Linked DNA regions of Homo sapiens. The protein of the gene in region 1 binds, or shares a complex with, the protein of each later gene. Each region holds a gene or a part of one and is shown in the gene's direction. Other genes may lie near its edges.

Region 1 (7,851 bases):
AGGCCAGGCGCAGTGGCTCACGCCTGTCATCCCAGCACTTTGGGAGGCCGAGGCGGGTGGATCACCTGAGGTCAGGAGTTTGAGACCAGCCTGGACAACATGGTGAAGCCTCGCCTCTACTAAAAATACAAAAATTAGCTGGGTGTGGTGGCAGGCATCTGTAATCCCAGCTACTCCGGAGGTTGAGGCAGGAGAATTACTTGAATCCGGAGATGGAAGTTGCAGTGAGCCGAGATAGCACCACTGCAGTCCAGCCTGGGGGACAAGAGCAAAACTCCGTCTTAAAAAAAAAGAAACCCAGACATATAATCAAAGGTGTGTCATTGTTTAATTGACAATTTTTTCTCTCTTCCTTAGTAAAGCATAAAATAATACTGAGTTTTACATTTGATGGCATCTCGTATTCAAGAAATACAGTAGCTCTCCAAGTTTATACCCCCCAAAAAACAAAACAAAACAAAAAACATTTGCTGAGTCTCCCCACTCCCTGAATGGAGATTTCTACTTTACCTCTTTCCTAATGTCCCAGGAAAAGCCCCAGATGAGTTGTGACTGGGTCCTTTCCCTAAGCTTGGCAGTCCTGCTTAAATTTCCGATATACAAATAAGATCCCCATAACACCCTCATGAGTGGGCAAAACACAGGTCACTATTTCCATTTTATATTTATTTATTTATTGAGACAGAGTCTCACTCTATCGCCAGGCTGGAGTGCAGTGGCGCGATCTCGGCTCACTACAACCTCCACCTGCCGGGTTCAAGTGATTCTCCTGCCTCAGCCTCTCAAGTAGCTGGGACTACAGGCGTGCGCCACCATGCCCAGCTAATTTTGTTGTATTTTTAGTAGAGACAGGGGTTTCACCATGTTGGCCAGGATGGTCTTGATCTCTTGACCTCGTGATCTGCCGCCTCGGCCTCCCAAAGTGCTGGGATTACAGGCGTGAGCCACCATGCCCAGCCTCCGTTTTTTCAAACTTTTTTTTTCTTTTTTGAGACAGGGTGTCACCCAGGCTTGAAGATTATAGCTCACTGTAACCTCAAACCCCTGGGCTCAAGTGATCCTCCCGCCTCAGCCTCCCAGGTAGCTGGGAGTACGGGCAAATGCCAGCAAGCCCAGCTAATTTTCTTATTTTTTGTAGAGATGAGGTCTCGCTATGTTGCCCAGACTGTTCTAGAACTCCTGGCTTTAAGCGAAATTCCCAGCTTGGCCTCCCAAAGTGCTGGGATTACAGGCGTGAGCCACTGCACCCAGCCTGCTTTCAAACTTTTAAAAACAAAAAGTAATGCATGTTTACTGTAGAAAAATTGGGCTGGGTGCGGTGGCTCACGCCTATAATCCCAGCACTTTGGGAGGCCAAGGCAGGAGGATTGCTTGAGCTCAGGAGTTGCAGACAAGCCTGGGCACCACTGTGAGACCTCATCTCTAGTAAAAATTTTTAAAAAATTACAGCGGGTCTGGTGGCTCATGCCTATAATCCCAGCATTTTGGGAGGCCAAGGCAGGAAGATCGCTTGAGTCCAGGAGTTTGAGACCAGCCTGGGCAACACGGCAAAAAACCCCATCTCTACAAAAAATACAAAAATTAGCAGGGTGTAGTGGCGCACATCTATAGTCCCAGCTACTCAGGAGGCTGAAGTGGGAGGATAGCTTTAGCCCAGGAGGTCGAGGCTGCAGTGAGCCAAGATTGTGCCACTGTACTCCAGCTTGGCAAGACCCTGTCTCAAAAAAAAAAGAAAAACCTTGGCTTGGTGTGGTAGCTCATGCCTGTAATTCCAGCATTTTGGGAGGCCAAGGTGGGCGGATCACCCTGAGGGCAGGAGTTCAAGACCAGCCTGGCCAACATAGCAAAACCCCATCTCTGCTAAAAATACAAAAATTAGCTGGGCATGGTGCCACGCACCTGTAATCCCAGCTACTAGGGAGACTGAGGCAGAATTGCTTGAACCCAGGAGGTAGAGGTTGCAGTGAGCCAAGATCGTGCCACTGCACTCCAGCTTGGATGACACAGAAAGACCCTGTCTCAAAAAAAAACAAAAAACAAAAAACCTCGCAGTTTTTTGGTGTGCGGTGGCTCACACCTGTAATCCCAGCATTTTGGGAGGCCAAGGCAGGCAGATCACCCGGAGGTCAGGAGTTCAGGACCAGCCTGGCCAACATAGTGAAAGCCCGTCTCTACTAAAAATACAAAAACTAGCCAGGTGTGGTGGCAGTCACCTGTAATCCCAGCTACTCAGGAGGCTGAGGCAGGAGAATCGCTTGAACACAGGAGGTAGAGGTTGCCGTGAGCTGAGATCGCGCCACTGCACTCCAGCCTGGCGACAGAGCGAGACTCCCAAAACAAAACTTTAAATGTGGCTTTTGTTGCGTGGGAAAAAAATAAAAAATTAACCAGGGTGGTGGCACCCACCTGTGGGGGCCACAGGGGTGGAGGCTGCAGTGAGCCATGATTATGCCACTGCACTCCAGCCTGGGGCAACAGAGAGAGACCCTATCAAAAAAAAAAAGAAAAAGAAAAAAAAGAAAAAAGTGAACAATAGGTAAATTACTAATAATGTGATGCATTATGTCCTCCTCGTTCTTTTTTGTTAAACATAAATGTGCACATATGTATTTTCAGTTTTAAATTAATTTTTAAATTGAAAAAGTATGTTTAAGAATAACTTTTTATGCTGTGCTTGGGGTGTATACAAAGAAAAATCTCCCATATCAGATCTCCAAGGCTGTCTGCTCAGGAACAACCACTGTTTACTGTTACTTGGATATCCTTACAGAAATAATCTCTTTGCACATCTATTTTTATACACACTTGTGCATCTAGCTTTTTTCAGTTTGTGTGGCCATCTCTCCATATGAGTTCATACAGAGTTTTTAACAGTTTTATTGAAGTGTAATTTATATACCATAAAATTCACCCATTTTTAACAGTACAAAGCAATTAATTTTAATAAAATGAATAGAGTTATGCAACTATCACCACAATCCAATTTTAGAACATTTCTACCCATCCAAAATGGATTCCTTGTGCGCATTTGTAATCACTTCCAATCTCACCTGCGGTCACAAGCAACCACTCATATTTCTGCCTCCATAGATTTGCCTTTGTTAACTCAATTGTAGCCTAAAGCTGCCTCCTTACATATTTTAAATTTAGCCTAAAGGTTTCTCTGTACATTGTGAACTATAACCTAAATGGAGTTGTAAACAGACCATAGCCTACTCTTTGCCAATCACCGAGTTTTGGCCAATCAAACATGGCAAACTATGCAAACCGTGTTCAAATAAGGCAAAGACCAAGCTGTAATAACCGGTGTTTTTTTTTTTTTTTCTTTTTGCAGGGGCCATGCTAATCTTCTCTGTATGGTTCCAATTTTAGTATATGTGCTGCCATAGCAAGCACCAGTGTTTTTCTTTTAACACCGTTCTGGACGTTTTATCTGGACATACACTGTTGTTTTTCTGTCTAGCTTCTTTCACTTAGCATGATGCTTTCATGGTTCATCATTGTAGTATTCATTTATTGCAGAATAATGTTCCATTGTACTGTATAGATATACCACACTTTATCCATTTGCCAGTTAATGGACTCTTGGGCTGCATCCAGTTTTTGTCTATTATGAATAATGCCGCTGTGAACATATGAACACATGGACATGTTTGCATTTCTCTACCTACAAGTGGAGATATATAGACAGAATTTTTTTTAAGGCTGTATGTCATTTCACAGCTGGTCTTCCACTGCTTGGATGCACAGTATTTTATTTTATTTTATTTTACTTTTTTTTGAGACGGAGTCTCTCTCTGTCGCCCAAGCTGGAATGCAGTGGCATGATCTCAGCTCACTGCAACCTCTGCCTCCTGGGTTCAAGTGATTCTCCTGCCTCAGCCTCCCGAGTAGCTGTGACTACAGGCGCGCGCCACCATGCCCGGCTAATTTTTTGCAGTTTTAGTAGAGACGGGGTTTCACCGTGTTAGACAGGATGGTCTCAATCTCCTGATCTCGTTGGATGCACAGTATTTTATTTAACATATTCGCTGCCGATAGACAAGTCGTTTCTACACGTGAATTTCTTTTTTTTTTTTTTTTTTGAGACTGAGTCTCATTCTGTCGCCCAGGCTGGAGTGCAGTGGCACGATCTCAGCTGACGGCAACCTCTGCTTCCCGGGTTCAAGCGATTCTCCTGCCTCAGCCTCCGGAGTAGCTGGGACTACAGGCGCCTGCCATCACGCCCGGCTAATTTTTGTTTGTTTGTTTTTAGTAGAGACGGGGTTTCACCATGTTAGCCAGCCTGGTCGTCTCGAACCTCTGACCTCAAGTGATCCGCCCGCCTCGGCCTCCCAAAGTGTTGGGATTACAGGCGTGAGCTACCGCGCCCGGCCTCACATGTGAATTTTTTTAAAAACACCACCAGCAAAACCCCACTATTCCCATTTTCCTGAGAAAGACGCTGAGGTCCAGAGAAAGAGAAAACGTTCTCATAATTTATGCTGAAAGCTGCGTCCTCAAGTTCCGGTTTCCCAACTCCCATCCGCACTCCAACTGCTCGCGCAGTCCACACAGGATACCTGCCCGCCAAGCCGGCCCCAGCAAGCCGCAGGAAGCCGTCCGCTGAACCTCAGGTTCTTGGGTTTTCCTATGCCCCCTGGAGGCATCTGCGAACCTCTCGGCATCGCTCCACCACACCTCCCACCAGCAGGTGGCACTGTTGCCATCTCCATAACATGGACTGGCCTTCCTTGTGGTGCTCCTGTTTTCTTAAGTCCCGGGGCACTTCCGGCACTCGCGGAACTTTGGTGCAGCCTGATGCGCAACGTGGGGACTCAGGCGCGCTGGGCGGCAGGAGTTGCTTCCGGCCGTGTTGGTGGTCTGAATTGAGAAGCCGCGACTAAGGGAAGATGGAGACAATACTGGAGCAGCAGCGGCGCTATCATGAGGAGAAGGAACGGCTCATGGACGTCATGGCTAAAGAGATGCTCACCAAGAAGTCCACGGTGAGTGGGGCCTGAGCAGAGGCTGCGGCAGGAGCACGAGCCTCTATCCCGTGTTTGACCTCTGAGAGCTTGCTTTGGCCCTCAGAACCTCCCTGCCTTCCTCCGGGCTCCCTCTCCGAGCTCCGGTCTTGGTAACCTCCTCCCGGGGTCCGGAGCCCCAGAGGCCTTTCTGCCTCAGCTGGTAAAAGCTGAGCGGGTAAGCTCCGCCCTCGGGCGGCCTTTTCTACTCCAGAACGCAAACTAACGGCGTTTGTGTCACCGTTTGTTTTTTCAGCTCCGGGACCAGATCAATTCTGATCACCGCACTCGGGCCATGCAAGATGTGAGTGCCCAGCTGTCTGCCTCTCTTTGGGTTGGCGAGGGCGGGAAAAGAGAGGGGAAGTGAAGTGCGGTGTCTCAGCATGAGTCCCTGGCCAAAGGTAACCGGATTGGCCAGTCGCGGGCTCTCTGCCTGGACAGATGTCCACAGGCTGCCGAACGTGAGGGTGCTTCCTCAGTTCTCTGAATGGGGAACTCTTGGGCATTCTTCATTAATCAGAAAGGTGCCCTTTTTTTTTTTCTTCTTCTTCTTCTTTTGGACGGAGTCTCGCTCTGTTGCCTAGGCTGGAGTGCAGTGGCGCGGTCTCGGCTCACTGCAACCTCCGCCTCCTGGGTTCAAGCGATTCTCCTGCCTCAGCCTCCGGAGTAGTTGGGACTACAGGCGCTCGCCACCACGCTCAGCTAATTTTTGTATTTTTAGTAGAGACGGAGTTTCTACTAAACATGTTGGTCAGGCTGGTCTCGAACTCCTGACCTCGTGATCCACCTACCTCGGCCTCCCAAAGTGCTGAGATTACAGGCTTGAGCCACCGCGGCCGGCTTACACGTGCCCATTCTTACAGCATCCTGTATCCCTTGGATGTGCAAACAATAGTTATGAAGAGTCCATGACTCAGGTGCATAGCTACAATCCTTCCCTTAAATGAAAAAAAAAATATATATATATATATACACACACACACACACACACACAACACACCCCGTATGTTAGTGTTTTTCTCCCAGGATACTACTTTAAAGCGTTTTGGACTACTAAACTGCATTTGTCTGGTAATAGTTCAGTTTATTAAAAGAAAAACAAGATGCTATTTAAACTGGGTGATGAATAAATGGAGGTTCATTTTACTACGTTCCTTACTCTTGTGTATGTTTGAAACCTGTTTAAAAAGGAATAAAAGACCTACTTGGACCTTCTGATTTGCAGGAGATTATCAGATTACAAGCCCTCAGCCCCAAAATACTCTGAAAACCAAGGATTTTCTTTTTTTCCCCTTGGGTGATTATTTGGTGTCAAAATCTGACCTGATCTCACTTGACAGTAAAACCTGGCCCGAACCTGTGATAGGCTTTTTATGGTCTTTAATTTATCCCACTTGGTAAATAAGGTATGAGGTTTACTGCAGAACTGTGTGCTCCAGATTCCACTAGGGATGTTACATAATATATGATACCTCTTTTGAACTTAAACATTCCAAATTCTGAAACAAATCTGGTCCCAAAAGTTTTGGAGGAGGGACTATGTACCTGTACCATCCTGAATTAGTATACTTTGACTACAAAGGAAGCCTATGTAATGTTTATTTAGCCTGCCTACTCCTCAGTCAAGCGTTTTGAAATAGTGAATATCATCTTTATCTTTGAGGATGTTAGGTGGGAACTAGTGTTTGGCCAAAGAGGGTGAGTCTGTTACAGGGGAAGTTAGGCATCGGTGGTATGTAAAGATAGGAGCCACCCCTTAAATGTATCATTTAGGTAATCTTCCAATCGACCTGCTTAAAAAACTAAACAGGAATCAAGGCTGTTAAAGGGCTATTAAAAAACTAACCAGGAATCAGGGCTGTTAAAGGTACTAGGAAGCACAGAACTGTTAAGACTATCTCATATCCATGTCTCTTGAGGTTGCCCTGGGCTTTGACTGGAGAACCCTTGTTGTTTGCTTAGCTCTACAGTTGTGCAAATTGCATCATTCTGATGGTTTTGTATTTGCCTTTCAGAGGTATATGGAGGTCAGTGGGAACCTGAGGGATTTGTATGATGATAAGGATGGGTAAGTGACAGTCACAGCTAATCCAGGAGTTAGTGCTTCTGAGGAGCCATGGTTAGAGGACTGACTTTGTGCTCTATCTTCTTTGAAATTTTCCTGAAATTGCAGATTACGAAAGGAGGAGCTCAATGCCATTTCAGGACCCAATGAGTTTGCTGAATTCTATAATAGACTCAAGCAAATAAAGGAATTCCACCGGAAGCACCCAAATGAGGTATGTCCTCAGAAAAGTATTTTCTCCAGACCTATCCTTAAAGCATACTAAAGGAAAGGTATAAAGGAAACTGGACATGTGCTATTCAAATGCACTTCAAGAAAGAACTTGCCATTTAGCTGCAAGGACCATAGTTAGCTGACATCCTACAATACAGTGTTTTCAGTATCTCCCTCAGCTTTTAAGCCAAGGCCGGCTGGGCACGGTGGCTCACGCCTGTAATCCCAGCACTTTGGGAGGCTGAGGTGGGTGGATCACCTGAGGTCAGGAGTTCAAGACCAGCCTGGCCAACATAGTGAAACTCAACCTCTACTAAAAATACAAAAATTAGCCAGGCATGGTGGCATGTGCCTGTAATCCCAACTACTCAGGAGGCTGAGGCAAGAGAATCACTTGAACCTGGGAGGTGGAGGTTGCAGTGAGCCGAGATTGCGCCATTGCACTCCATCCTGGGGGACAAGAGTGAGACTTTGTCTCAAAAAAAAGAAGTCAAGGCCACATTTTGTGGGCAGCTCCCAGCCAGTGACTGAGCACAGTATGGGTACTAGGGCCCAGCAATTTGGTCC
Region 2 (7,022 bases), on another chromosome or scaffold:
TGGAAATGGAAGATACTTCAGGGAAATGAAGGCATTTAGTACATACCTCTGTGGTTCGTTCTATTAAATTACTCTTTTGAGTTAACATAAAATTTCTATCACAGGAATTGAAATTCCAGAGTAATTTGGATGGAAATGAACTCATGCTGTCTATGTAAAATGTGTGTAAAAGTAAACACTAAAATATTAAAGTATGGAAAATCTTCTTTGAGTAATTTGCTCATTCAAAATGTTTGATTATAAAGAAACCACACCTATTACTCTGCTCTTTTTCCCAGGCTGCATTGCGTCAGATTACTGATAAAGCTCGTGAATTTGGAGCTGGTCCTTTGTTTAATCAGATTCTTCCTCTGCTGATGTCTCCTACACTTGAGGATCAAGAGCGTCATTTACTTGTGAAAGTTATTGATAGGATACTGTACAAACTTGATGACTTAGTTCGTCCATATGTGCATAAGGTTTGTTCTCCTTAATAGTGTTTCTGATAGTTTAAAGTTTTAACTTTTTCAGTTAATCAATGTTAAATTTACATATTCTCCTAGACCTTTTCCTTTGCACAAGTACACACCATACATGTACAAATACAGTTTTATACAGATGTACAGATGTTAGTTTTTGTCATCTTTGCCGTAAGAGGTTCATATTATTTAATTTTTTCATTTGCTTTTATTAAAATTAGATTAGGATGAGAACATATGAGAACTAACGCCAGTTAGTATTAAGAACCAGTTTTTTCACCGATGGTAATTATGGTGCAGTATGTTCATAGGGTGTATAAGTTATTTCTTTAAAAAATATTGAATATTAGTGTGTCACTAATAGCTCTCTTAAATTTTCATCTCTGTCTGGAGTTTGAACTTGTATAATTAAAATTCTTAAACAGTTCGTCCCTTGATTAACAAAAGTCCTGATAATTCTAAATTTCTTATGTATGTTTAATTCTGTACATGAGCATTTCATCAGTAATTGATGTGAAAGTGTAGCTTCTTCTCTTTTCTCTTTTTCAGATCCTCGTGGTCATTGAACCGCTATTGATTGATGAAGATTACTATGCTAGAGTGGAAGGCCGAGAGATCATTTCTAATTTGGCAAAGGTATTTACATTTAATTTCTAGAGAAGAAAATTTATATCTGTTTATGGAATTGATTATGGAAAGAAATGGTTGAAGATTAATATTACCAACTCATGACTGTCCTTTCTTTGTTTACATTTTAGGCTGCTGGTCTGGCTACTATGATCTCTACCATGAGACCTGATATAGATAACATGGATGAGTATGTCCGTAACACAACAGCTAGAGCTTTTGCTGTTGTAGCCTCTGCCCTGGGCATTCCTTCTTTATTGCCCTTCTTAAAAGCTGTGTGCAAAAGCAAGAAGTCCTGGCAAGCGAGACACACTGGTATTAAGATTGTACAACAGATAGCTATTCTTATGGGCTGTGCCATCTTGCCACATCTTAGAAGTTTAGTTGAAATCATTGAACATGGTAAGTTGTAATGTAACTTTGTCTTTTTTTTTTTTTCTTTAGGAGACAGGGTCTTACTATGTTGCCCAGACTGGACTCAAACCTTTGGGCTCAAGTGATCCTCCTGCTCAGCCTCCTTAGTAGTTGGGACTAGAGGTACACACACAGCCTGTCCATGTTTAATAGGACAGCTGTCCTAAAATTTGGGCTACTGATTTGGGGAGATAAATGGAAAGGCATAGCTCTACAAACTATAGATTTTATGATGGGTTTGTTATATTATCTGCTGACAGGCTATGGTTCATGTTTTGCTTTTACCTAATTTTGTTTAATGTGAACATATTCTGCAGTTTGGCTGAATAGTTGATATATTGAGAGAATCTGGATGATATTGTGTAACTTAGGTAATGTTGGGGCATAGTTAAAACCTGTGTTTGGTTTTGTAGGTCTTGTGGATGAGCAGCAGAAAGTTCGGACCATCAGTGCTTTGGCCATTGCTGCCTTGGCTGAAGCAGCAACTCCTTATGGTATCGAATCTTTTGATTCTGTGTTAAAGCCTTTATGGAAGGGTATCCGCCAACACAGAGGAAAGGTAAATCCACCAATTACCTTTTGATTTATCTTCATTAAAGTTAAGGCGACATAAATCTAAATTACTAAAGTACATATATTTTTTATTTAAAAATAGGGTTTGGCTGCTTTCTTGAAGGCTATTGGGTATCTTATTCCTCTTATGGATGCAGAATATGCCAACTACTATACTAGAGAAGTGATGTTAATCCTTATTCGAGAATTCCAGTCTCCTGATGAGGAAATGAAAAAAATTGTGCTGAAGGTAATTATTCCAGATTTGTTAATGTAAACTGGATATGTTTCATGGTTCTAACAGAATTTTAAAGTGTTTTTAAAAATCAACAAAAAAAACTGTATGTTACACGAATACTGTTTGATTTGTTTTTAAATTTTATTTTTTAAAATCACGTAATCAGCAATGAGTATTCTCTTCATTTCAGGTCAGTTGATTTATTATTACTATTTCTTAACCTTTTAGGTGGTAAAACAGTGTTGTGGGACAGATGGTGTAGAAGCAAACTACATTAAAACAGAGATTCTTCCTCCCTTTTTTAAACACTTCTGGCAGCACAGGATGGCTTTGGATAGAAGAAATTACCGACAGGTAAGCTTTTATTGTAAAAGAATATTCTCAAAAGTCCTTTCAACTCATTCTTTAGTCAACTTGAATGCATGTTGTATATTATTTTTTGCCTTGATTATCTCACAGTTTATATGTGCTTGATTATGAAAGGAGATGGATTTTAGTCAGCCAGTTAACTTCCATTTTGATTTTGGATTCGAGGATTAATACTTAACTGTGAATTGATGTTTTTGTCTGGTACATTCAGTGCTTTATCTGGCTAGATGAAACATGGACACAGTTTTACCTTGAATCATGTTAACTTATACTCATTTTTCGATGTTTGGTCACTTTTCTCTTCAACTTTAATAAGTAGCAATGAATCATTCTTACCATGTTTATTAGCTAAATAAGTAGTATATTTAGAGTATTTGGTTTTCATGATGTTGCTTTATTTCCTTGGAAAAGCAGTCTAAAAGGTTTTTTGTTTTTCTGTTCTTTTTAGTTAGTTGATACTACTGTGGAGTTGGCAAACAAAGTAGGTGCAGCAGAAATTATATCCAGGATTGTGGATGATCTGAAAGATGAAGCCGAACAGTACAGAAAAATGGTGATGGAGACAATTGAGAAAATTATGGGTAATTTGGGAGCAGCAGATATTGATCATAAACTTGAAGAACAACTGATTGATGGTATTCTTTATGCTTTCCAAGAACAGACTACAGAGGTAATGAAAACTATTATGGCACATTGCTACTAACTTTAATATTTGTAGAAAAGCATATTAGTTGTCAAGCAAATTTTTCTAGAATGCAATTGAATTTGAAGTAATTTTTAAAATGCTCAGGGGGTTACCAAACGATATTATTCTACCTCAAGTTTTAAGATTTGATGTAAAAAAACAGCAACAGATGTTTGGGTGGTTAGAAAAGGTTGACTCTTAGTGTATTTCAACTGTGCAGTCATAAACCAAATGAATATGTCTTTTTTTTAAATTTATTTTTTAGGACTCAGTAATGTTGAACGGCTTTGGCACAGTGGTTAATGCTCTTGGCAAACGAGTCAAACCATACTTGCCTCAGATCTGTGGTACAGTTTTGTGGCGTTTAAATAACAAATCTGCTAAAGTTAGGCAACAGGCAGCTGACTTGATTTCTCGAACTGCTGTTGTCATGAAGACTTGTCAAGAGGTAAACTTTTGCATCAAATTCTTACTTCTTCCCCAAATAGTTTAATGTAAATAGTAACATTTTAACATTATTTGTTTTATTATAGGAAAAATTGATGGGACACTTGGGTGTTGTATTGTATGAGTATTTGGGTGAAGAGTACCCTGAAGTATTGGGCAGCATTCTTGGAGCACTGAAGGCCATTGTAAATGTCATAGGTATGGAATTTGCTGGTTACATAAGACTTTTTCTTGTTTTAACTTTCTTTTTCTTTTTTTTTTCGTAAGTAAAATCTTATTTAGGAGTTGGGAGGTTTTTGTTAGCTTTTTAAAAGCACTTCAAGATTGTAGTTAAGTCGGGGGATGTCACAAAAGTCTTGTTTCCCAAAACCCATTTATATTTTACTTTAAAGAGAAAAAAAGGGTAAGTTTAGGACCTACATGAGAGGTGGGAGTAGTCACAGCTCAAAAAGCTTTGAAGTCATGGAATACAGGACCCTAGTAGAAATAGTGTGTCAGGTGAAATATATTCTGCCATGTTCTGCTGCGGGGTGAAAAGGCAATCCTAAAGTTTTAATTTAGTTTTAGAACAATATATATATATTTAAACCTTGAATTAGCGATTATGACAGGTTTTTTGCTTGTGATCAGTTTCAAGGAATATAATCAGAGAAAAGTGAACTGATCAAATTATTGTCTTTATTTACATACCCAAGTTTTAAATACTGTCCATTCAGTTTTCTAACCCGTAATACAGCTATATTACAAATGGTCTTGGATATGGAGAGCAAAGTTTTTATTCCATTAGGGCAGTATGAAGAAAACAAATGGTTTCTTATATTTAATCTTTTTTTTAAATTGATTATAACTGTTGCCAAATGTAACTCCTGCAGAGTTTAGAGGCTCTGATAACCTAGCAGAAGTCAAAATAGCTGACTGTGAGAGAGCCACTGTTTGTTTTTCCTCATTTTGTAAGAGGTATTTATGCGATACACATGTTTAAACTATTGTATTTGCATATAATCTCCAATGCAACCCTATCCTCTATACTTGAAGATAGCTACTTGCCAGAAATCATTTACATGGCCACTTGTAGGGCTCTGGTTTGCAGGGAGTTTTAAACCATATTGTTTGTCAGAGAGGCATGGGAAGAGCAATGGAGAGAGAATCAGAGCAAGTGATTCTAGTTAGAGCAAGAGCCCCTGCCAGCTGCCTCCTTTTTTCTCTCTTCGTAGGTGTAAATACCATCCAAGTATGCCCTGCATTGCAGGGAGACTGGAGATCTGTTTGTTTTGCAGTTAAAGGGTAAGGGGGCCCTTTCTGGAAATTTTTGCTTTATTTACATGTTTACCTCTGGCTTATATTGTTGTGTATGGCCGGAACATAAGCTGTCCCCATATTTAAATGTCAGTGCACAAATATATTTCAGAATCAAACAAAACTTTTTTGTTATTGAGTATCCATCATCCTTTAAATCACTTCACTGATTTCTTTCATTTCTATACATAATCAAAAATTGTTAATAAAAGTTAAAAACGATTCTGAGTCTGGTCAGAATCTGGGGCTTTCTCTTTCCCTAGGCAGCTGTAAGTTTATATTTATACATAGTCATATATGACATTGCTAAGTAAAAGGAAAGTGAACAAAAGTTGCAATTCAAATGTTGATAGTTTATTGACTTCTATTAAATAGGTATGCATAAGATGACTCCACCAATTAAAGATCTGCTGCCTAGACTCACCCCCATCTTAAAGAACAGACATGAAAAAGTACAAGAGAATTGTATTGATCTTGTTGGTCGTATTGCTGACAGGTAAGCAGATTACCCACACATTTTTATAAGCAGTATCAATTTTCAAATTTGGCCACTTTGTATTCAATTAGCAAAATTTCCTTAATGTCACTAATATAAGTGTAAAAGATTAGGCTATCCAGTATTAATATTTTCAGTCAAATTTCAATTTGGATGGTAATGGGGGTGGCAATGTAATTTTAGGACTAAACCTGTAAGACTAACTCTTCAGCCTTTCTGAAGAGTAGTAAGTTTTATTTAATGCTTAAAATGAGTTAATCATGTTTTTAGAACTGAATTTGCAAATTTATCCTTAAAACTTTTCTTAATGTCACAATAATTAATATGTGTATTTTTTAAATTAGGGGAGCTGAATATGTATCTGCAAGAGAGTGGATGAGGATTTGCTTTGAGCTTTTAGAGCTCTTAAAAGCCCACAAAAAGGCTATTCGTAGAGCCACAGTCAACACATTTGGTTATATTGCAAAGGCCATTGGGTGAGTGTTATTTACTTCCATTAAAAAAAAATTACTTTATAATAAATGCATTGTGGTATTGGAAAATACTTCCATGTAGAAATCTCTTTTGAGGCATGGTCTGAATAATGCAGTTGAGAAAGCTCTTCATTTAACCACTGACCTTCTGATTATTGGAATGTATTGTTAAATTCTTTTTTTTTTTTTTTGAGACGGAGTCTCGCTCTGTCACCCTGGCTGGAATGCAGTGATTCAATCTCGGCTCACTGCAACCACCGCCTCCCAGGTGCAGGCGATTCTCCTGCCTCAGCCTCCCCAGTAGCTGGGACTACAGGCATGCACCATCACGCCTAGGTAATTTTTGTATTTTTTAGTAGAGATGAGGTTTCACCATGTGGGCCAGGCTGTTCTCGAACTCCTGGCCTCAAGTGAGCCACCTATCTTGGCCTCCAAAAGTGCTGAGATTACAGGCGTGAGCCACTGCGCACAGCCTGTAGTCTTAAATTCTTAATTAAAATAGATGGAAGGGTTTAAGACTTACTTTAATTACACTTTAGGTGTTTTCAGGGAGGGAAACAGTACCATTTTCAGAAAAATTTAAAATGTGTGCTGGTCTTCTAGGATATTGCTTAAACTATTAAGGCAAGTTTTTAGTCTCACAACATCATTTAAGTCTCATATTAATGCTTTATATGTTTTAAAAATCTTATTATGGATTGTTTGAGCCCAGGAGTTCAAGGTTACAGTGAGCTGTGATTGTGCCACTGCACTCCAACCTGGGCATCTGGGCACCTGGGCGACAGGGCGAGACCCTGTCTCTAAAAAAAACAACAAAAATGCTATTCTAACATTACTCCACGGATTTAACTGAATTATAGCTGCTTTGTGAGATAATCTGTGGTGGTTTGCTTCCACTCCATCACAACTAAAATAGGAAAAAACAGTCATTGTAGAAAACGAGACACCACATGTCCATGTGGCTTAA
Region 3 (7,077 bases), about 110 Mb from region 1:
TAAGGCTTCTTCCTCTCCTGTTCCTGGGAACTACCTGCGAGCTCTACTCTCATCCTTCAGTGCTACCTCTGCCTCCCCATCACAACTTGTGGTCCCTGACACTAGGATGGTCTTAGCCCCTTTGTTCCTTTCCTTCCATCAGCGGATGGAGACTGGGGTTGGGGTGGGAAGGGCAGTGTGGAAGCTGGTTTGAGAATTGTGATTCTGCCCCTTACATGTGAAACTGGGTATTTCTATCCGGGTGGAGTCCAGGAAGTGAATCATTCAAGGTCTTTGTTTTCTCTTCACTTCTATGTGCTTTCTCAATCCTCCTACCCCAAACCTTTCCCCTCTGTGCCTCTCACTTCTCCTTGCCGTATTTCTCTTCTCATTCTCTTCTGCCCTAGTTTCTTGGACCCCTCTTCTTTGTCCCTTCTTCCTCTTTATCACCCAGAGCGCGGTGATCGTGATCTCAATGGCCTCCTCTCTTCACTCGTCCAGCTGCTTTCAGCCCCCGAAGCCCGAACACTGTTTGGCTTCCAATCACTAGTACAGCGAGAGTGGGTGGCAGCTGGACATCCCTTCCTGACTCGGCTTGGGGGAACTGGGGCCAGTGAAGAGGTGAGAATGATTCGGGATGGCATCGGGGGCATATTACTAAGGAAGTAAGAGAATGAGAAATTATTTTGTATAATCCATTGGAGGTGAATCCGGTCAGAAGGGCCCCGAGGTTAGGCTGGGACGAAGATCCTGATGAGTGAGGCCTTACAAGCCCCTGCTACCCTCAATTCAGATTTTCATTCCCTGACTTCCATAAGTTCCCCCTATTCCCTGTGTTCCCCATTCCCTTATCATCTCGTCATCCTCCCTCTTTGGGTCCCAATAATCCCTTCCAACCTCTTAATTTCTTTTCAGGCTCCGGTGTTTCTCCTCTTCCTTGATTGTGTCTGGCAGCTCCTCCAGCAGTTTCCAGCTGATTTTGAATTCTCTGAGTTTTTCCTTCTTGCTCTTCATGACAGTGTCAGGGTTCCTGACACCCTTACCTTCCTGAGAAATACCCCCTGGGAGCGCGGAAAGCAGAGCGGACAGGTCAGTGACTTCTATTTTTGACTCGTGTTTTTTTTTCCATTGAGATGTACTCTCTGAAGTTTGGTCTTGATTTGTTTTATGAGAAGTGAGGTCTGTGAGTGGGGAGGGGGAGATTTATTCTCATTTTCAGGACGAGACTTTTGCCCTACATCTTTCCTAGAATAAGAGGTGAGAATCTCATGATTTGTCTCTAGATGTGGGAGGATTGTGTGTAACCATCCTTTTTCTTGCTTCCTCTGTCCAGTTAAACTCCTATACACAAGTCTACACCCCAGGATACTCCCAGCCTCCAGCTGGGAACTCTTTTAACCTGCAGCTGTCTGTCTGGGACTGGGATTTACGTTATAGCAATGCACAGATACTACAATTCCAGAATCCTGGCTATGACCCAGAACACTGTCCAGATTCCTGGCTCCCTAGACCACAGGTGAAGTGTCTAAACTTCCTAAATTCCCTTGACGTTCCCACAGGCTCATGCTACTAGACAGTGAGAAGTGAAAGACAAAATGTCTTGAGTTCCTTAGGGAAAGCTACTCCACTACTCTTCTGCAGCTGTCACTTATAGTCCCTGGGTGTCCCTAGGAAGACAGAAGACCTAGAATAGCACAGAGGGCACCCTTTTTGTCCTTCCTCAAGTCTGTTTACTCATCTTCCTGTCTCGTGCACACATAAGGTGCCCTAAAATCAACCTTAATCAGTCCCGAGGCCTAGTTGAAGCCTAATGAGGAGGGTAGAAGAGTTCTCATGGGGAGGCTTGTAGTTCTAGTCACCAGTGCAGTGAGTGGGTGGCAGCAGGACACCCTGTCCTGATCCAGATTGGGGAAACTAGGGTTATCTGGTCTCTCTGTTGCCAGTTGATTTTCTTTTCCTTTTAGCCAAGCTTCATGGTTCCTGGACCCCCCAGTTCTGTGTGGCTCTTCTCTAGAGGAGCATTGACCCCCCTGAATCAGCTCTGTCCTTGGCGGGACAGTCCTTCCCTGCTGGCAGTCTCTTCTCGTTGGCTCCCTCGACCTGCTATCTCCTCTGAAAGCCTGGCTGACCAGGAATGGGGTCTCCCCTCACATTGGGGAGCTTGCCCTTTACCTCCAGGGCTGCTGCTGCCTGGGTATCTGGGACCCCAGATCAGGCTCTGGAGACGCTGCTACCTGAGGGGAAGGCCTGAGGTCCAGGTAAGAAGGGAAAATAGACTGGGAGTGGGACAAGGGACTTGACTCTGCTGAACCAGATGAACAGGAGCTGGAAAGGCAAGGAGCTGAAGCCTCTGGGAGTCTGGGAAGTGAAGTTCTACTCCTCTTGGCATCAAACAAGGTTTGGGAGTGTAGGAGGTGCGGGAAAGTGCTTGTGGCTTAGATTAAGTGGAATTTAGGGCATAGCTGAAAGGGGAAACAGAATTAAAGACACCAGAAGTAGCAGAGAAGCAGGGGGCCAGAGCTACAACAGTATTCTTCTCTGTTCCTCTTTGCCTCCTCCCCAGATGGGCCTCTCAGCTCCCACAATCTCTGGCCTCCAGGATGAGCTATCCCATCTTCAGGAGTTATTACGGAAATGGACACCAAGAATATCTCCTGAGGATCACTCCAAGAAAAGAGATCCACATACCATTCTCAATCCCACTGAAATTGCTGGCATTCTCAAAGGCAGGGCAGAGGGGGATCTGGGGTAGAGGAGGGTTCTGTCTAATCTTTTTTTTTTTTTTTTGTATCTGCACTTGCAGCCTCAGCTTTCACACTTCAGCCCTTAAGTTCACTAAGAAGGTCTGAGTTTCTGCTGCAGATAGTGGTGTTAACTGCTCCAACTCTTGTCTTGCTTAGTTTCTACAAATATTTTTGCTTCTTGTCATTTGAAGGATTAAGAAACAAAAACAATCCAGAAATTGATCGGTTTTTTTAGGCCAATCCCATCCCTTCTGGATAACCAGATGTTAAATCATGAGATCAGAGATGCTGTTCATCAGTCCCAACAAGATGGCCTAGAAATCGCATTCTCACCTCGCCTTGCTGCTGCTTTAATTCCAAGTTCTATTTCTTCCCTTATAGTTTTCTATGGGAATGAGGCGGATACAGGAAACACCCTATCTCCTCTGTATTTTTGTAGTGGAATTTCTATTTAAGGGGCTCATTAAAGCATAGTATTTATACACATTGCTGGCATTGTTTCTTGTGTTTGAATAAAGGATTCTCCTAGGTAGGAAAGTGGTGGGTAAAAGGGGTGTATGACCCAAGAGAGGAAGGCATCCACCATATTATTGCTAAGGAAATAGGGGAACTGGGTTTGGTGAGGCTCTGCAAAATTCAAGTGCAATTTGGGGAAAGGGTTCTCTTGTGTGTGTCTCCCATTTAGAGGCAGATGGGGCCAGAGTGTTCTAGAGATCCAGACTCTAGAGCTCCGATCCCATCCACCCCTCAGCTGTGGTCACACACCAACGCGGAGCAGCCCTCACCCTCCCCATGCAATTAGGACGAGGTGAGCGCAGACGTCACTCTAAGCTCAGACATTTCGCAGTCTCCTCCCCTGAGGGAAAACCAAATACCTCCAGCCCAAATCAGGGTTGTGAGGCCAAATCTGCAAGAAGGCTGCAGGCGAGAGGGAAGGCTCCCTCTGCGCCTGAAAGCCCCCAAGTCCTCGGGTTGGGGGGAACTCTTCAGCACATCCTTCTCTGGACAACAGAAGAAGAATCACTGTCCACAAAATATATTAAAACTGAAATTTTTGTTCTTTTAGCTTTCGAATTTACACTTTTGAGAGCAGTGTGATTCTTTCAAGTCTAGCAGTGCATTAAGAGGGCCTGAGCGTTTCCGTTCCGCCCTCCTCGCTAAGACAACTAGCAGCGGCACCTCAGGACGCGAGCCGAGGACTCTACCGCCCGACCCAGGTTAAGTTTCGGAGGCTCCTAAGATGGCTGCAGCCGCTTCCAGGCACCTCCTCTTCCGCGGCCCCGCCCACCGCTACGTCCGTCTTCGCCCCGGAAGTGGAAGTCGTGCTGAGGTCAGAAGGCGGAACCGCTGCTGGGAGACGGCGGGATCTCTTTCGCCATGGCTGCCGGGCCGATCTCCGAGCGGAATCAGGGTAACTGGAGGGGGAAAGTCTGGAATGGGCTCAGCGTGGCTAGGAGGCCCCGACTACAGCCAGCAGTGTCTCTGCAGGGGTGGGAGACTGGACTCCTCCCTTCCCCAGAGGGCGCGAGACCGGCCCTCTGCCTGTTGGGGGCGGGGTGGCCGGGTGCTGGCTGAGGCCTCTGGGTGTGATACTTAAGTCCGGTCCCCTGCTGACTTCTCACTCAAAAAATCAAAAAAACCCACTCACAATACTAAATTAGACTTCAGAGGATTCCCGAAGTCCTGGGAAGAGAGAAGTTTAAGGGTTTAAACTTTTTTTTTTGCTCCTGTCCCCTACCGCGGTCCCCAGTTCCCCTGGTTGGGTTCCATCTTCATGTTTCCATCACTTCCTTCCTTCCCGTTACACTCTCACGCTTGCTCTTTTTGCTCCCTCCCTTCAAGATGCCACTGTGTACGTGGGGGGCCTGGATGAGAAGGTTAGTGAACCGCTGCTGTGGGAACTGTTTCTCCAGGCTGGACCAGTAGTCAACACCCACATGCCAAAGGATAGAGTCACTGGCCAGCACCAAGGTGAGTACATGACAAGGGGCGAATTGCTCCCGGAGGGTCCCAGCAGTATTCACAACTGTTTTGGAATAACATGAGCAACCTAAAGATTTTTTTCTTTTAAGCCTCTCTTCAGTTTATTTCTGGAACCATTCTTAAGTAAAGTGATGTTGTTTCTTTCTTGTTCTTTGTGATTAGAGGGTAGATGAATTTTACCCCATTTTCAGTCTCTTTACTTACGTTGTTAACCTCCTCTTCTCCACTTTTCCAGGCTATGGCTTTGTGGAATTCTTGAGTGAGGAAGATGCTGACTATGCCATTAAGATCATGAACATGATCAAACTCTATGGGAAGCCAATACGGGTGAACAAAGCATCAGCTCACAACAAAAACCTGGATGTAGGGGCCAACATTTTCATTGGGAACCTGGACCCTGAGATTGATGAGAAGTTGCTTTATGATACTTTCAGCGCCTTTGGGGTCATCTTACAAACCCCCAAAATTATGCGGGACCCTGACACAGGCAACTCCAAAGGTTATGCCTTTATTAATTTTGCTTCATTTGATGCTTCGGATGCAGCAATTGAAGCCATGAATGGGCAGTACCTCTGTAACCGTCCTATCACCGTATCTTATGCCTTCAAGAAGGACTCCAAGGGTGAGCGCCATGGCTCAGCAGCCGAACGACTTCTGGCAGCTCAGAACCCGCTCTCCCAGGCTGATCGCCCTCATCAGCTGTTTGCAGATGCACCTCCTCCACCCTCTGCTCCCAATCCTGTGGTATCATCATTGGGGTCTGGGCTTCCTCCACCAGGTAAAGCTTTTGGTTAAAATATGTTTGTCTTAAGGTTGGGGGAGAGGGTCAGGAGGAAGAAGAAAACAAGTCTGAAAGGGGGACAGGGGACATTGAGTCAGTGAGTTGATGGGAAGAGGACTGAGGGGTGATGGTAGTGGTGAAGAAGAAAGTTGTTGGGTTTCTTTAGGAGGGTGAAGTTGGTTGACTTTTCTAACATTGCTTTTGATTTTAGAGCACTGGGAGGAGGGGGAAAGAGCTCACCCTGCCTGGAGAGGCCAGATCAGGACAGGCTCTTTAAAGACATTTTCTCCTCACTACCATTAACTCTTCCTTTTTCCATTTCCTCTATAGGCATGCCTCCTCCTGGCTCCTTCCCACCCCCAGTGCCACCTCCTGGAGCCCTCCCACCTGGGATACCCCCAGCCATGCCCCCACCACCTATGCCTCCTGGGGCTGCAGGACATGGCCCCCCATCGGCAGGAACCCCAGGGGCAGGACATCCTGGTCATGGACACTCACATCCTCACCCATTCCCACCGGGTGGGATGCCCCATCCAGGTAGGTGTGCTTTGTTGGGAAAGGGAGGGAAGAGCTTGGTAGAGCATCTCTGTTACCACTCACCCTGCTGCCCTTTGTTCCTCAACAGTAACAGTTTCAGAGTTTTCCTTTCCTTCAGACATTCTATTATAAAAACATACAAAATGCTCTCTAACATCTACCACCCTGAATCCATTTCTTAAGTTTTTCTGACAAGTAGACTCTACTTGCCAGTTTTTATTTCTTTAATCTTTAGTTCCATTCTCTTCTCTGACTCCACCTCAAAGTGGTGACCTAATTGCCAAATCTCGGGGACGCTTCTGCTCCTTATCTAGTTTGACCTCTGATATACTTGAAACTAGTTGTGTCCTCCTGTTTGAAATTCTTGTCTCTTTTTGCTTTTGCTTTTCTAGATCCTCCACCCCTCTCTCTGACTTCTTAATCTCAGCTACCGTGATAGACTCATGTCTACTTGTGCCTAGATTTTTGTGCTTGTTTCTCTTTTCTGCATATATCTATAGTTTTAATTGGGTATATACTGATGCCTCCTAGGTCTGTATCTCTAGTCCGTAGCTGTTGATATTCCAGATCCTTGATGCTGCTGCTTAATAGATAGCGTCATTTTTCTATCCCTCTCCTTCAAATCCATTCTTCTTCTAGTGTTCTTTTTTTTCAGGTGCTTAATTCATGAATCTGAGAGCTATGTTTGACTGCTCCCTATCACCCCACTCTTAATACCAAGTCTTATTTGTATCAGTGGCATCTCTCCCCATGGCCAGTGCCCTAGTTCAGTCTCTCATTGCCTCATTATTTTACACTTAATTTGTTGTAGTAATCTCTTGCCACTTTGACTCCAGTTTTCCCTAACTTTGATCTACTTTCACAGTGTAGGTCTTTTAAGACACAGATGTGCACACACTTGCTCAGAATTCCTCTGTTGCTCCCTTTGACCTACAGAGTAAAACCCAAACTCATTACCATAGCATTCACAGCTCTTTATGATCTGGCCCCTGCCCCTCATTTCTATAACTGCATTTTGCTCCTGATTACTGAGTTAACTGGCATTTCCTGGAA
Region 4 (7,022 bases), on another chromosome or scaffold:
GGAACATGGTTTCTCAGAATGTAGTCGGAGTCCCTGCATCTGAATCACCTGGGCATTTGGTAATGTAGCAGGACGAGTCGCAGACAAAACTCCTCAGACACCGGATTAAAGAAGGAAGAGGTTTTTTATTCATCCGGGAGCGTCGGCAGACTCGTGTCTTAAGAGCCGAGCTCCCCGAAAAAGAAATTCCTAGCCCTTTAAAGGGCTTACAACTCTAAAGGTCTATGTGAAAGAGTCATAATAGATCAAGTAAGCGTGAGGAACGTGACTGGGGGCTACATACATCAGCTAACAGAACAAAAAGTTTTACAGTGCTTTCTCATACAATGTCTGGAATTTACAGATAACACCAGTAGTTTTGGTCAGGGGTTAATATTATTATTATTTTAACCACCAGGGCCAGGTGGTGGCACCAAGGTCGTCTAGCTATTTATCTTACTTCTGTTTCTTTCCAACTTTTTGCTTTCTCCCTTTTCTCCTGTCTTATAAACTAGGGAAAAGGGGAGGTTGGGGAGAAACTGGGAAGGACAACAGGAGAAGTGCTGGTCTCATACCATAGTAAAAATGCAGATTCCTGGTCTCACTGAGATAGTCCAGTGAGAGAGGAGCCAGGGAAGCTGCTCTTCTCCCTGGGTCCCCAGGAGCAGCCCCTGCAGGTGCAGTGAACTTAAGAGAACTGCTTTTCTGAAGTAGAGGGTTCTAACCTGAGGGAAGTCTGTGAATGAAAGTCTACTCTGAATGATATCCTAGAGGAGTTTTACAGTGGAGAACCTGCTCTGAACCAGGGACTTTAAAACCTTATTTCTTTTCCTGTTTGCACAGCCCACAGAAGAAGAAGCATCTTCAAAGGAGGATTCTGCACCTTCTAAGCCAGTTGTGGGGATTATTTACCCTCCTCCAGAGGTCAGAAATATTGTTGACAAGACTGCCAGCTTTGTGGCCAGGTAACAGAGCTACTTGGGTGGGTCAGAGGTGGGTTTCAGCATGAAGAGACTTCAGCACTGAATCAGCACAAGGGTTTTTAAAGAGACGTTGTTGGCTTGGGCCTTTTAGTTCATAAAAAACCACAACATGGCACTGGGGTAGGCAATAGGTAGGACTGGTGTCCCTGACACAGCATAGCAGTGGCCAAAGTGAGAATCACACTTAGCCCCACAGTCACCAGGAGCCTCTGCTTCTAAAACTGGCCTGAGGAAATGCCTGGAAAGCTGCTTCATCACAGATGGTGTGTGTCTGTGCCTGAGCTGCTGGCCTGAGGAAGATAAAAAGGGGAGTTTATTATTCTCATTGTACAAAGACCACATTCCAAGAGCCTCAAATGACCCATCTGCAAAATGGAAAAAATGCCATCTCAGAGTTGTTGTGAGGCGGGAGTGAGGTCATGGGGCTGCATGCAGTTCAGTTCCACGCGGGTGCTAGTCACCTCCTCAGATGGCATGGGCATTGCTCCGAGTTCCTCCTGTCTCTCCTCACAGTTCCATGCAGGTGCTAGCCGCCACCTCAGATAGAATGGGCATTGTTCCGAGTTCCTCCTGTCTCTCCCCACAGTTCTGTGCAGGTGCTAGCTGGCTTCTCAGATGGAATGGGCATTGGTCAGAGATCCTCTCTCTCCCCACAGTTCCATGCAGGTGCTAGCCGTCTCCTCAGATGGAATGGGTATTGCTCTGAGTTCCTCCTGTCTCTCCCCACAGTCCTGTGCAGGTGCTAGCTGGCTTCTCAGATGGAATGGGCATTGGTCAGAGATCCTCTCTCTTCCTACAGTTCCATGCAGGTGCTAGCCGCCACCTCAGATGGAATGGGAATTGCTCCGGGTTCCTCCTGTCTCTCCCCACAGTTCCACGCAGGTGCTAGCCGCCACCTCAGATGGAATGGGAATTGCTCCGAGTTCCCCCTGTCTCTCCCCACTGTACTTACCCTCACATCCTTAGATGGAATTTTTTTACTGGCCCCTTGACTCCAAAGGTCAGTACATTCTCTAGGGTATTTAAGGTATTCCTTTGGCAGCCCTCAGTCCATGTCCAGCCTACAGATGTTTTGTTTGTCCTCACAGTAATTTTTTCGAAACTCAAATTTGTTGCTACTATTTAAAAATGAGGAGGTCAGGTGCTGTGGCTCTTGCTTGTAATCCTAGCACTTTGGGAGCCCAAGGTGGGAAGATCACTTGAACTCAGGAATTTGAGACTAGCCTGGGCAACATAGTGAGACCCTGTCTACAAAAAATAAAAAGTTATCTGGCTGTGGTGGCATGGGCCTGTGATCCCAGCTACTTAGGAGGCTGAGGCAAGAGGATCGGTTGGGCCCAGAAGGTTGAAGCTATAGTGAGCCATGGACTCTAGCCTGGGTGACAGTGAGACCCTGTCTCAAAAAAAACAAAACAAGTAAAAATGAGATTTCACAATCAGTCTGGATTTCTGGACAGTTCCTTCATGTGTGGAAGCAGGCCCAATCAGCATGTGTTCTCCAGGGACCACGTCACCCCCCTGAGGCAGTGTCTCAGTCAGTATGCATCATTTAACGGATGGTCCTTCCTTTCCCAACCTAATAAAATTAGACATAAAGATTACTTTGGTTAGACTTTCTTTTTTTTTTTTTTAAATGACATGGAGTCTCACTCTGTTGCCAGGCTGGAGTGCAGTGGTGCAGTCTCAACTCACTGCAACCTCTGCCTCCTGGGTTCAAGTGATTCTCCTGCCTCAGCCTCCCGAGTAGCTGGGACAACAGGCGTGCGCCACCACGCCCAGGTAATTTTTGTATTTTTAGTAGAGACGTGGTTTCACCGTGTTGGCCAGGCTGGTCTCAGTCTCTTGACTTAATGATCCCCCGACCTGGGCCTCCCAAAGTGCTGGGATTACAGGCGTGAGCCACGGCACCAGCCTACTTTGGTTAGACTTTCACTATGTCAGCTCTGCAGATTCATCTCATTACATTTCAAGGGCTTTGATTACCTTTGAGTATTAGGTTGAAAGCTTCTCTGTGCTTGATTGAACATTGTGATGATGTTGATTGGGTCATGTCAGATTTAGACAGTGTTGTGTTTAAGATAAATGTTTAATGGCTCTTAGCAGTGTTCATGCCTCCCCTTTTCCCCTGATACTTTAAAAACAGAATATACAGAAAAGGGGAGTTGGGTGAAGAATCACCATATTCTCATTACCAGAGTAGTGTCTACCAGCTGTTTTCACATTTTTCTGTTTCCTTCTGTCCTTGGAATCCTTTTTTTAGATCCTTGTAATACTAGTAAAGATATTCCACTCTGTGTTGTAAGCATTTTTCCATTTTGCTCCATGGTCTTCATAATGCCCTGTGGTCCTTTATTAAGGGGATGCACCATGTAGAGGTGAAAGGCTTTCCTTGACTTGGCCACCATTTCTGTATTTTCCTTAGAGGAGGAGGTTTCCAACATTTCTTTTTTAGAGACAGAGTCTCGTTCTGACACGCAGGCAGGAGTGCAGTGGCATGATAACAGCTCACTGCAGCCTTGAACTCCTGGGCTCAAGTTATCCTCCCACCTCAGCTTCCTGAGTAGCTAGGACTACAGGTGCCTGCCACCACACCCAGCTAATTTTTTTTTTATTTTTTTTATTTTTTTTAGTTTTTTTGTATAGATGGGGTCTTTCTGTGTTGCTCAGGTTGGTCTTGAACTCCTGGCCTCAAGTGATCCTCATGTCTCAGCCACCACAAGGTGGCTGGGATTACAGGCAGTGACCACCGCACCTGGCCTGTTCCCAACATTTCATTTTGGCAAATTAAGCTGTGGGGAAATCTCTGAGCATTTTCTTTCCCTTTTAGATCGTTTCCTTAGAAGAAAATTCTGTGTGGCTCATTATTGGCTAAAAGAGCATCCTTAAAAGATTTCTTAAACATTTTGCCAAGTAGCTTTCCAATAATTTTGTGCCATCCTCTGCTGCTAAAGAAATAAGAGGATATCCAAGGTCCCTTTAAATATATATGACCAGGTTAGGTGGCTCACGCCTGTAATCCCAGCACTTTGGGAGGCCAGGGTGGGAGGATCGCTTGAACCCAGGACTTGGACACCAGTGTAGGCAATATAGTGAGACCCCTGTCTCTACAAAAAATAAAAAAATTAGCTGGGCATGGTGGCGCATATCTGTATTTCTAGCCACTTGGGAGGATCACTTGAGCCTGAGAGGTCAAGGGTATGATCATGCCAGCGTACTCCAGCCTGGGGCGATAGAGCAAGACCCTATCTCAAAAAAAAAAAAAAAAAGAAAGAAAAAAATCCAAAACCATGCACATCCCTAGATTGATTTTTAGCTATGGTGATTGCTTTTGTAGGCATTTCTAAAATCTGTGAGCCAGTGTGGTGGCTTACACCTGTAATCCCAGCACTTTGGGAAACTGAGGTGGGCAGATCACCTGAGGTCAGGAGTTCAAGACCAGCCTGGCCAGCATAGTGAAACCTCGTCTCTACTAAAAATACAAAAAATTAGCCAGGTGTGGTGGCGGGCGCCTGTAGTCCCAGCTACTTGGGAGGCTGAGGCAGAAGAATCGTTTGAACCCGGGAGGCAGAGGTTGCAGTGAGCCAAGATTGTGCCACTGCACTCCCACCTGGGTGACGGAGCGAGACTCCGCCTCAAAAGTAAATAAATAAATAAAATCTGTGAACTTATCGTTTACATTGCAACAAAGAGACCAATATCCGAGTTAAAGCAGGCATGCAGAACTCTGTGCTTCACTTCTCCTGGGTTCACGTATATTTATGGAGCATGCAGTAGAAATGCACAACTGAGCGGTTTTCCAAAAGTTTTTTCGCTAGGTTAGGCCTTTTCATTTCCTGCATGTTCCTGTCAAGAAACTGAAGTGGAAATTACCCTTAAAAAGTCCCACCAGCTGGGTTGAGTCAGAATCATGTCTTTTTCTGTTGAAATCTATTCCTTCTGGTGGAGAGTATGATTCTAAAATTAACGTTAAGCTAATTTAAAGCAACTGAATAGCTTGGAATGAACATGCCAAGCCTTCTCATTGTTTTATTTTTCAGATTGTTCCCAGATGGGGTAAAGTTATGGCTTAGGCAGTGGTACAGGAGACAACCAGGGCCCCTTTTTCCAGGAGCCCTTTGTCTGCCCGAGGCATTTGCTGGGTATAGTGGCCTAGTTTAGCAGGATTTAAGTGTGCATTCACCTTCATTCTTATGTGTGGTTTGCATTATTTAAGGAGTAGGGAGAATTTTTTTTCCAAAGCATGAGGTTCCAGTTAGACTAATATACTGTCAAATTGAGACCTCATGGTGTTAGTTACACGGCAGGGTATGACCACGACTTGCTGAGGAGCCAGCCTGGGTGTCGATCACTAGTGTGGCACATAATTGCTGTGGTGGTTGATCTGGGGCACAGCACTGCCTGTACCCTGTCTCCTGCCATCTGTCTTAAAAAAAATTTAAAAAATTTTTGTTTTCAGAGGTGAAATTTCATTTTGTTGCCCAGGCTTGGGTATGATCTTCTGGGCTCAAGTGATCCTCTCGCCTCAGCCTCCTGAGTAGCTGGGACTACAAGTGTGCGCCACTGTGCCGGGCTCCCACCCCCTCTTAAACTCACAGGCCAGGGATATGAAAGTCTGAAGAGTGGAGCTGGCTAGCTGGCACCAGATGCCGGGGCCATGCCTTGGTGTGTTTGGGGCAGTTCTAAGTACAAGGTTCTCGCCAGAGGAGCAATGGAAGGCCCCACAGACAATGTTTATGGAACAACCCCTCCTAGCCCCTTGCATTTGCAGGCCACTGTACGATTTGAAAAGACTTTGAGGGCTGGGTTCAGTGGCTCACGCCTATAATCCTATCACTTTGGGAGGCCAAGGCGCTTAAGCGCAGGAGTTTGAGACCAGCCTGAGCAACATGGTGAAACCCCGTCTCTACAAAATGTAAAAAAAAAATTAGCCGAGCATGGTGGTATATGCCTGTAGTCCCAGCTACTCAGGAGGCTGAGGTGGGAGGATCCCTTGAGCCCAGGAGGTGGAGGTTGCAGTGAGCTGAGATTGTACCACTGCACTCCAGCCTGGGTGACAGAGTGAGACCCTGTCTATAAAACAAAAACACTTTGGCATCTCCTCAATAATGTTTCAAGGTAGAAAGGGAAACTGGTGTTAGCTGCATTTTACACATGGGGAAATGGAAGCAAAGAGTAGTTTGGTAACTTGCTGTGGGTCAGAGTGAGTCAGCAGTGAACCTGAGACTTGAACGTGTTCATATCTTGTGTCTTTAAGGTCCGTGTACTTTCTGACTGACACAGGTGTTGTATATAAGTGTGGCACTTTGAATATTACTGTTGGGACATTTTAAAAATCAGGGTTCCCTAAACATCATTATAGGGACATTTTTTCATTATCCTGAGGTTTTGAAGGCTTGCTGGGGACATGGGGCATATCTGGGGAACCATCCCAGGTACAGACAGTGGTTGGAGACCTCCCTGCTGATCTTACCACACCCCTGTCATCTGAAGGTGCCTTATACAGCTGTACGAGTCTGGGTTTTTGCTGAGGATGTTTCCTGTGTGGGCCTCACCAGTATAATGGGGGTGGTTTTAGGGAGTACTTGGACAAGGCGTTAAACCAACTATTTGTTTTTTGTTTGTTTGTTTGTTTCTTAAAGACAGGGTCTTGCTCTGTTTTCCAGGCTGGAATACGGTGACACGATTCTAGCCCACTGCAGCCTCAGACTCCTGGGCACAAGTGATCCTCCCACCTCAGCCTCCTGAGTAGCTGGGACTAGAGGCACACACCACCATGCCCAGTTAATTTATTTTTATATTTTTTTGTAGAGTTAGGGTCTTTTCTTGTTGCCCAGGCTCAAATCAACTAAATTTTCATGTCTTTCAGTCTTTCTTGTTACTCAGAGGACAAAGTCTAGGTTTGGTGCTCATGTACCTTTTACACCTCTCCAGCACTTGCTACCCCTTTGAACTAAGAGAATTAGTCTCAGCAAACTTCCAGCTAAACTTTGACAGTATTACTTTGTTTTCATTATGTTCACTTTTGACTACCTTTTGTTGGTAAAGGCATACTGATTTTTT

The links.
Region 2: SF3A3 (region 1) and SF3B1 share a complex: the UniProt entries of both Homo sapiens proteins name them as parts of the 17S U2 SnRNP complex.
Region 3: SF3A3 (region 1) and SF3B4 share a complex: the UniProt entries of both Homo sapiens proteins name them as parts of the 17S U2 SnRNP complex.
Region 4: the proteins of SF3A3 (region 1) and SF3A1 are in contact, whole or in part, in an NMR structure (PDB 2DT7), measured with the Homo sapiens proteins. Residues at the interface, in NP_006793.1 of Homo sapiens: Glu80 (codon at 7,220), Phe81 (codon at 7,223), Glu83 (codon at 7,229), Phe84 (codon at 7,232), Tyr85 (codon at 7,235), Arg87 (codon at 7,241), Leu88 (codon at 7,244), Ile91 (codon at 7,253), Lys92 (codon at 7,256), His95 (codon at 7,265); in NP_005868.1 of Homo sapiens: Ala161, Phe162, Asp165, Val166, Leu169, Thr170, Phe173, Asn177, Phe181, Gln184, Leu185, Lys188, Phe195.

What each region holds. Positions count from the first base shown.
Region 1 is NC_000001.11:37,987,007-37,994,857, reverse strand, and holds the start of SF3A3 (splicing factor 3A subunit 3), read left to right. Parts: upstream 1-4,835; 5' UTR 4,836-4,892; coding exon 4,893-4,988; intron 4,989-5,262; coding exon 5,263-5,310; intron 5,311-7,021; coding exon 7,022-7,074; intron 7,075-7,179; coding exon 7,180-7,285; intron 7,286-7,851. UniProt on the Homo sapiens protein: Component of the 17S U2 SnRNP complex of the spliceosome, a large ribonucleoprotein complex that removes introns from transcribed pre-mRNAs.
Region 2 is NC_000002.12:197,397,021-197,404,042, reverse strand, and holds part of SF3B1 (splicing factor 3B subunit 1), read left to right. Parts: intron 1-278; coding exon 279-458; intron 459-1,007; coding exon 1,008-1,094; intron 1,095-1,216; coding exon 1,217-1,487; intron 1,488-1,912; coding exon 1,913-2,058; intron 2,059-2,154; coding exon 2,155-2,301; intron 2,302-2,517; coding exon 2,518-2,643; intron 2,644-3,106; coding exon 3,107-3,328; intron 3,329-3,608; coding exon 3,609-3,791; intron 3,792-3,876; coding exon 3,877-3,988; intron 3,989-5,004; coding exon of another isoform or gene 5,005-5,074; intron 5,075-5,461; coding exon 5,462-5,582; intron 5,583-5,926; coding exon 5,927-6,058; intron 6,059-7,022. UniProt on the Homo sapiens protein: Component of the 17S U2 SnRNP complex of the spliceosome, a large ribonucleoprotein complex that removes introns from transcribed pre-mRNAs.
Region 3 is NC_000001.11:149,924,783-149,931,859, reverse strand, and holds the start of SF3B4 (splicing factor 3B subunit 4), read left to right. Parts: upstream 1-4,056; 5' UTR 4,057-4,100; coding exon 4,101-4,134; intron 4,135-4,565; coding exon 4,566-4,694; intron 4,695-4,941; coding exon 4,942-5,484; intron 5,485-5,817; coding exon 5,818-6,024; intron 6,025-7,077. Other genes in the region: MTMR11 (myotubularin-related protein 11), read left to right, coding at 434-600, 895-1,068, 1,313-1,495, 1,944-2,237, 2,543-2,731. UniProt on the Homo sapiens protein: Component of the 17S U2 SnRNP complex of the spliceosome, a large ribonucleoprotein complex that removes introns from transcribed pre-mRNAs.
Region 4 is NC_000022.11:30,346,873-30,353,894, reverse strand, and holds part of SF3A1 (splicing factor 3A subunit 1), read left to right. Parts: intron 1-822; coding exon 823-944; intron 945-7,022. UniProt on the Homo sapiens protein: Component of the 17S U2 SnRNP complex of the spliceosome, a large ribonucleoprotein complex that removes introns from transcribed pre-mRNAs.